Homo sapiens: one gene and its partner. The protein of the gene in region 1 interacts with the protein of each later gene in a pairwise test. Each region holds a gene or a part of one and is shown in the gene's direction. Other genes may lie near its edges. The genes, in order: LPIN1 and GTF2B.

Region 1 (3,823 bases):
TAAACTTTTGAAGATTTGAGTTTTCTCAGTGTTGCGGCAGCTTTGTCAGCTAAAAACAGTTTGATGCTAAAGGAAGCTTAGCCTCTCATGTTAATCTGTTATTTATTTGTTTAACAGAGAAGTGATTGAAAAGAAGCCAGAAAAGTTTAAAGTCCAGTGTTTGACAGACATCAAAAACCTGTTTTTCCCCAACACAGAACCCTTTTATGCTGCTTTTGGAAACCGACCAGCTGTAAGTAGTAGATTGGGTATAGAAGAACCCTTGAAATGACTGCCTTTTCTGGTTGCTGTCATCTGAAAGCCCTATCCGAGAACCATATGTAGAGTCAGATTCTCATCCCAGAAGCAGTAGCCTGGTGAAGAGCCACTTGCCCACATCTAAAGGCAAGGGGATTACAAATTATCTTATGGCTTCCAGGGTTCTTTGAAGGTTGGCGGGTGGGTCAAAGCTTGAGATATGGGACTTAAAACTCCAAATTTCAAATTACTCATTAAAGCAGTAAAGCAAGAACATTTAATCGGATTAGTTTCTTTCTACCAGAAGGGAACCGCAAAATCAGTCCTAACCATAATGGCGAATTCAGCATCTCACGTTTTAAGTGTCTAGTGTTGTCTCGTATCATGAAAGAAGCGCTTTGAGATTTTGCATGTATTGCCCGCATTTACTGGAAAGCTAAGTATTCTAGAGAATGTAGTTGGGTACTAACTGCTCCATCAGAAAGTCCTACTTTTGAAAGTTACGAGAGATTTTCATGAAGTAGGAATATGGGTCAAAGAATAACCTGAAGGAATGTTAGAATTGCGGGGACGTGGTAGGTTGTCTTTTCTTCAACTCAGTCCTTGAACAGATGAGGGAATTGAGGCCCAGAGAGCAAAACTAATTGAATAGTTTCCCATCAAAGGATATTCTTTCACTGCACCACTTTGAGGTAGAGCTCTGGTTAATGAAAATTTGATATCTCATCAAATCAGAAATACCATGGACTTGTTTTTACAATGAACTCTTTTCTAATGAACACTTTAAATCACCTTTACCAAATATAGGATGTGTATTCATACAAGCAAGTAGGAGTGTCTTTGAATAGAATATTTACCGTCAACCCTAAAGGAGAGCTGGTACAGGAACATGCAAAGACCAACATCTCTTCGTGAGTATTGTACACATTTTATGTGATTATGATATCAGTACTATTATCTTAAAACGGTGCTTCCCAGTTTGCGGTGTACCTTTTCCCCTTTGCTGCCTATATGTTAATCTGTAATTCTTATAATGAAAAAATGTATTTTAACTCCTTGTATTTTGTCCAAAACATAATTTTTAGACAACTGGAATTAAATCAGATCCCTTCTGGGTCTAAAATTTAAACTCGTGGTTAGAGTCTGCTACAGAATGGAATTGAATGAATTTGAAAACTAGTAGTTTAGATTTGCCAAGTTAGGTTTGAAAGCCTAGAATGTGAATGAGAAATATAACCAAACTGAAATATGTGAAGTTATATTTAAAGATGAGGAACTGTATATCTCTTCACATACCAAATGTTTCTTACCAGAGACATTGCTGTGTAATTGTTAAGAATTCCCTTCATATTTTTGGTCAAAGCCCAGTTTTTCTGAGTCGGTGGGCTAAATGGGATTACTCTTTCTAATGAGGCATCCTTGTGTGCTTAGAATCACTCTTGACTTTATCCTGTCCCCCTCGGGTTCCTAACTTATTAGGATGGAGAGCATTTCCTCATTCCATGTTGTTGGGAGGTTGGCCCACTGGGTGACATCAGCCCAGGCCGACCCTTGTCTTCCTGCCTTGTCCATTTCAGAGACTACACCTCTTCTGGTCTGGTCTGTGCAGACCTGGAAAAGAGCCTCTGGCAGGCCAGGCACGGTGGCTCATGCCTGTAATCCCAGCACTTTGGGAGGCTGAGGTGGGTGGATCACCTGAGGTCAGGAGTTCGAGACCAGCCTGACCAACATGGAGAAACCCCGTCTCTCCTAAAAATAGAAAAATTAGCCAGGTGTGGTGGTGCATGCCTGTAATCCCAGCTACTCAGGAGGCTGAGACAGGAGAATCACTTGAACTCGGGAGGCAGAGGTTGCTGTGAGCCCAGATCGTGCCATTGCACTCCAGCCTGGGCGACAGAGCTAGACTCTGTCTCAAAAAACAAAAGAGCCTCTGGCCTTAGTGGCCCCAGATAGCCCGAGGGGTTCCTCTTTATCTGGAGGAGTTAGACTGGGGGAGTTTGGTTCTAGGAGATTCCTAAGGATTGGTTTTCTCCATGTAGCTTCTGTGGTTTTAGATAGAGAGATAAGTTCTCTCTAGGGCAGATTTTTACTTTCAAGATGGTCCTTAAACTAGTTGGATTCTAACTGAGTGTCAATAGGGCAGTTCTAGGCTAACAGGAGTCCTGGGGCTGCCCCACAAGACTCCTCTCACCCTGCAGTCATGCCAGTACCCAAGCAGTCCTCAAGGTTTGTGCAGAGAGAGGGGAGGCTGGAGCCAAGGCCCTGTTCCCTCCTGCAGAAGGCGAGGCAGTGCCAGGCTGCTTCCTGATTGGCAGAAAAACAGCAGGAACTTGATTCCTTTCTTAACCCTTCCTTGCGGTTTCTGCCACCTCCACTGTTCTAAGTGGCTGACTGTGACAATGTCTCGTTCCCACTCCCCTCTCATTCCCCAGGCTGGAGAGGACCTACTGGGTTTCTATTTAGGATCTGTGTTATAGTCTGTTTTCATGCTGTTAATAAAGACATGGACCCAAGGCTGGGTAATTTATACAGGAGAAAGGATTTAGGCTGGGCACGATGGCTCATGCCTATAATCCCAGCACTTTGGGAGGCCGAGGTGGGTGGATCACCTGAGGTCAGGAGTTCAAGACCAGCCTGACCAACATGGTGAAACCCTGTCTCTACTAGAAATGCCAAAAAAAAAAAAAAAAAAAAAAAATTAGCCAGGCATGGCAGCTTGCACCTGTAATCCAACTACTTGGAAGGCTAAGGCAGAAGAATCACTTGAACCCAGGAGACGGAGGTTGCAGTGAGCCAAGATCATGCCACTGCCCTCCAGCCTGGGTGACAGAGTGAGACTCCATCTAAAAAAAAAAAAATTAAAAAAAAAAGGGGAGACCTCACAATCATGGTCAAAGGAGGCAAGGAGGATCAAGTCATGTCTTACATGGATGGCAGCAGGCAGAAAGAGAGCTCGTGCAGGGAAACTCCCCCTTATAAAACCATCAGATCTCATGCGACTTTATCACAGGGACAGCATGGGAAAGACCTGCCTCCATGATTCAGTTAACTTCCACTGAGTCCCTCCCACAACACGTGGGAATTCAAGATGAGATTTGGGTGGGGACACAGCCAAACCATATCAGGATCAAAAAGAACTTTGAACCAATGAGACGCTGTCCAGGAATGGGAAAGTGGCAGGTCTTGCCATGCACGCATGGAAAGAGGGACTCCAGCATCTGAGAGGGTTTGGCTAGGTGGCCTCTGCGGTCATTGCATTGACTGAGGCTCTAGGGTTAAAATGCACACCTCGCCCATGGCTTGGCCTAGGGTGGAGCTCTGCAGACTTTACTCATTGCCAGGGGATGTTGACATTTTACACCTGGACTGGAGGCGGGGTTGTTCCTGTGAGAGAGTAAATCTCCTCCCCCAGGAAGCTCACATTTCTCTGGCGCTGAACTTGGTATAGCTATTTCTGAGCCAAGTAGATGCTTGTCATTCAGAACTGGGACAGTCATCTGAAATGTCTTCAGAGGCTGGGGCCACACAGCGGGAGCAGCTCAGTTCTTTTTCCCTTTCGTTTGCGAGTGTCTGTGCGTAAGCTCTG
Region 2 (3,823 bases), on another chromosome or scaffold:
TCCATCAATTCATTTGGCCTGCTTTAAAGTTGTCATAAATGGCATATGTATTCTGCTGTCTAGATTCTGTTAGTATTTTGAGGTTCATCCATGTTATGGTGTATGGTTAGTTCATACTTTTCAGCTTTGTATAGGTTTTCTACCTTATTCTTCACTCTTCATATCTTTGAGATGTTTCTGTATCATTACACAAACTATAGTTTTCTATCTACTTTTTAATACTGCAGAGATATTAGTTCTTAGCACGTGTTGCACATGGCCTCCTCTTTTACTAATTTGTAATTACTGTTACTCTGCTAACATTTTCCTTTATTTCAACATGGTTTTTCATAATTTATATCAACTGTTTAATTTTATTTGTCATAATTTATTAAAATACTTTCCTTAGAGGAATTTATGGAATAAACACAAATATGAAGTAATACTCATCCCCCCGTGTTCCCAATGAGAAGATTCAAGACATATTCTAGTTAAGCTGACTAGATAAGTTTAGGGGGGAATATGGATTATTTTATCAGTTTTCCCGTAGATATCACCTTCTGAGTTGAGAGTTAACATTCTGAATTGTATTTGCTAGCATGAGAAACTTTACCCCAAACCACAAATACTATTTACATACTATAAGAACAGTTGATTTTGTCTTTTACGTGTATCTGATGTCCATAACCTAACCATTTATTGTATTTCAGATGGTTTTTAAAAGGGCCTTATTTGCAGTGATACCAAGAATTTATGATTGTGAGGTCATACCCCCTGAAATAATGATCAAATCTTTGTTGCTTTTACAGCTGATTCTGTCAGATCATTTAAGATTAATGTGTCAAAAAAAGATGAATGTGTCTTCTGCAAACTGCTTTGTTGTTCAAAATAAATTGAGCTAATTATTAATATCACAGATAACAAGTAGCTTTTGAAACAATTTCTTGAATGATAAATTCAATAACTCAATTCTGGACTAAAGGAAATCATCAAGTCTTAAGTTCAGCAGAGCAACTTCTACCATCCCTCATTTCTATACTTACTGGGTTCAGTGTACTATTTAAATCTGTTACTAAAGTAGTTAACAAGTAGAAAAATACAGAGAGAAATTGTTCTCTGACTAGAGAAATAAGTGGCAAAGAGCACAAACTGGATGGTAATGTAAATGCTGCAGGTTATTACGGTAACTAGTCATTACTATACTAATCAACATTTCTAAAAGTCTTACTGGCATACATATTGAGAGAAGAAACAATTATTTTCTATTTATGTTTTGAAAGCCTTCCACAATAAAATAAGAATTCCAGTGGAAACTACTTGCCAGTTACTAGCTGGAATTTAAAATAACCTAACTGGGATGTTTACTTTGAAAATCTAGCTTATATGTGTTACAGTTGTATGTATGAAAAAACGTTCACAATCTTTGTCTTCCCCATCCCCCATCCCAGAAGATTAATTTGATACATGTTGGTTGGGAAGATGTAAAAATACAACTTTTTTCTTTTAGTTTGGATGCTCTTCCAAGAGTCACATGTCCAAACCATCCAGATGCGATTTTAGTGGAGGACTACAGAGCCGGTGATATGATCTGTCCTGAATGTGGCTTGGTTGTAGGTGAGTTGTTATTATGGTTTTAATTTAAATTACTGTTCAGGAGGCCAAGCATGGTGGCTCACGCCTGTAATTCCAGCACTTCGGGAGGCCAAGGTGGGAGGATCACCTGAGGTCAGGAGTTCGAGACCAGCCTGACCAACATGAAGAAACCCCATCTCTACTGAAAATACAAAAACTAGCCGGGCGTAGTGGTGGGCACCTGTAATCCCAACTGCCCAGGAGGCTGAGGTAGGAGAATGGCTTGAACCCAGGAGGCGGAGGTTGCAGTGAGCCGAGATCGTGCCACTGCACTCTAGCCCGAGCAACAGAGCAAGACTCCGTCTCAAAAAAAAAATAATAATAATAATAATGTTTAGGGTCCTTCACTTTTGCATAGTTTCCAAACTATCATTTAATGAACACATTTTTGACTTTCTTCCCCAACAAATAATTTATTGCAAAAAAACAATTAGGAAACAGAAACGAGTAAACTTATTCAGAGATATATTTTATTGTATATCCAAATGTATATTTTTATAATGTGGGGTGGGAGCTAATCCAGAAGAAACGAAAAGGCCCCAGTAATTTCATAAGTCCTTAGTCTGAAATATTTGGTAGAGGACTGGAGAGATGGGCTGACACTCATGCATATTAAATAATGAATACATGTAATCAAACTTTTGTGGCTTTTTTATACATTGGGAAGTAGATAAACATGATTTTTGAGTCCCACTTAAAGCCTTTTAGTCAAAAAGAAGATTTATTATAACTTTTATACAGTCATCTATTGATGAATATCTTGTATAAAATTATTGCCAAAAATAACACTTAAAGTTTCACCTTGTTCCTACTTGCACACTAATCTAGATATGCAGCAGAACTTTAGACTACAGATAGTCTGTTCAAAAATTATTCTTGTGGTGGAGTTGTAGCATCTGAGAATAGGGGTAATATTTAGCAGTTTGAATTACTTAAGAATGAAAATTCTAGAAGGATTGTGGGCAGTATAACAGAAGCATTAGTAGTGGCATACTGTGGACTTGACTTACTTGGTCCAAGAAGGCTGCTTGCCTCAGACCTATAGTGGGAGTTTTAAAGTATAGAGTTGCTAATAGGAATTGAGAATCATTTGCAACCGTATTCTGCTGAGTAAGGAATATTAATAGCTAATATGTTTACTATATACTAGGCACTATTCTAAATGATTTACATATTCACTCAGTTTATCCTCACAACAAACCTGTGAGGTGAGTACTACCATTATCTTCATTTTACAGATAAGGAAACTGACGTTTAGGTAGTCTAGAAGACTGGCTCCATTGTCTGCGTGGGAGGCAGATTTCTATCTTGTATTGCCTTTCATAATAATAAAATTTTAATCTGGGGTCGTCAAAGTACAACCTATATATGGCCTATTTGTTAATTCTGGCTTTTACATTTTTAAATGGTTAAAAAAAATCAAAAATAATATTTTAGGACATGTGAAAATACAAATTTCAGTATCTATAAAGTTTTTCTTCGTTTGTTTTTTGAGACGGAGTTTTGCTCTTGTTGCCCAGGCTGGAGTGCAATGGCGTGATCTCGGTTCACCACAACCTCCGCCTCCCGGGTTCAAGTGATTCTCCTGCCTCAGCCTCCCAAGTAGCTGGGATTACAGGCATGTGCCACCATGCCCAGCTAATTTTGTATTTTTTTTAGTAGAGACGGTGTTTCTCCACATTGGTCAGGCTGGTCTCGAACTCCTGACCTCAGGTGATACGATCGCCTTGGCCTCCCAAAGTGCTGGGATTACAGGCGTGAGCCACTGCGCCTGGCCAAAGTTTTTTTTTTGATACAGAGTTTCGCTCTTGTTGCCCTTTTGTTGCCCAGGCTGGAGTGCCGTGGTGCGATCCCAGCTCACTGCAACCTCTGCCTTCCAGTTTCAAGTGATTCTCCTGCCTCAGCCTCCCGAATAGCTGGGATTACAGGGGCCCACTACTACACCTGGCTAACTTGTTGTATTTTTAGTAGAGACAGGGTTTCAGCATGTTGGCCAGGCTGGTCTTGAACTCCTGACCTCAGGTGATCCACCAGCCTCAGCCTCCCAAAGTGCTGGGATTACAGGTGTAAGCCACCATACCTGGCCTGGTATCTATAAAGTTTTAATGGAATATAGCAACACTCACTTGTTTACATAGTGTATATGACTCTTTTCACATTACAACAGCAGAGCTTAGTAGCTTCAACAGAAACCACATGTGCAGCTCTCATC

What was found.
Region 2: the proteins of LPIN1 (region 1) and GTF2B interact in binary tests that used the Homo sapiens proteins (3 or more experiments, as listed by UniProt).

Annotation. Positions count from the first base shown.
Region 1 is NC_000002.12:11,819,367-11,823,189, forward strand, and holds part of LPIN1 (phosphatidate phosphatase LPIN1), read left to right. Parts: intron 1-117; coding exon 118-232; exon of another isoform or gene 233-384; intron 385-1,044; coding exon 1,045-1,148; intron 1,149-3,823. UniProt on the Homo sapiens protein: Acts as a magnesium-dependent phosphatidate phosphatase enzyme which catalyzes the conversion of phosphatidic acid to diacylglycerol during triglyceride, phosphatidylcholine and phosphatidylethanolamine biosynthesis and therefore controls the metabolism of fatty acids at different levels.
Region 2 is NC_000001.11:88,885,031-88,888,853, reverse strand, and holds part of GTF2B (transcription initiation factor IIB), read left to right. Parts: intron 1-1,486; coding exon 1,487-1,593; intron 1,594-3,823. UniProt on the Homo sapiens protein: General transcription factor that plays a role in transcription initiation by RNA polymerase II (Pol II). Involved in the pre-initiation complex (PIC) formation and Pol II recruitment at promoter DNA.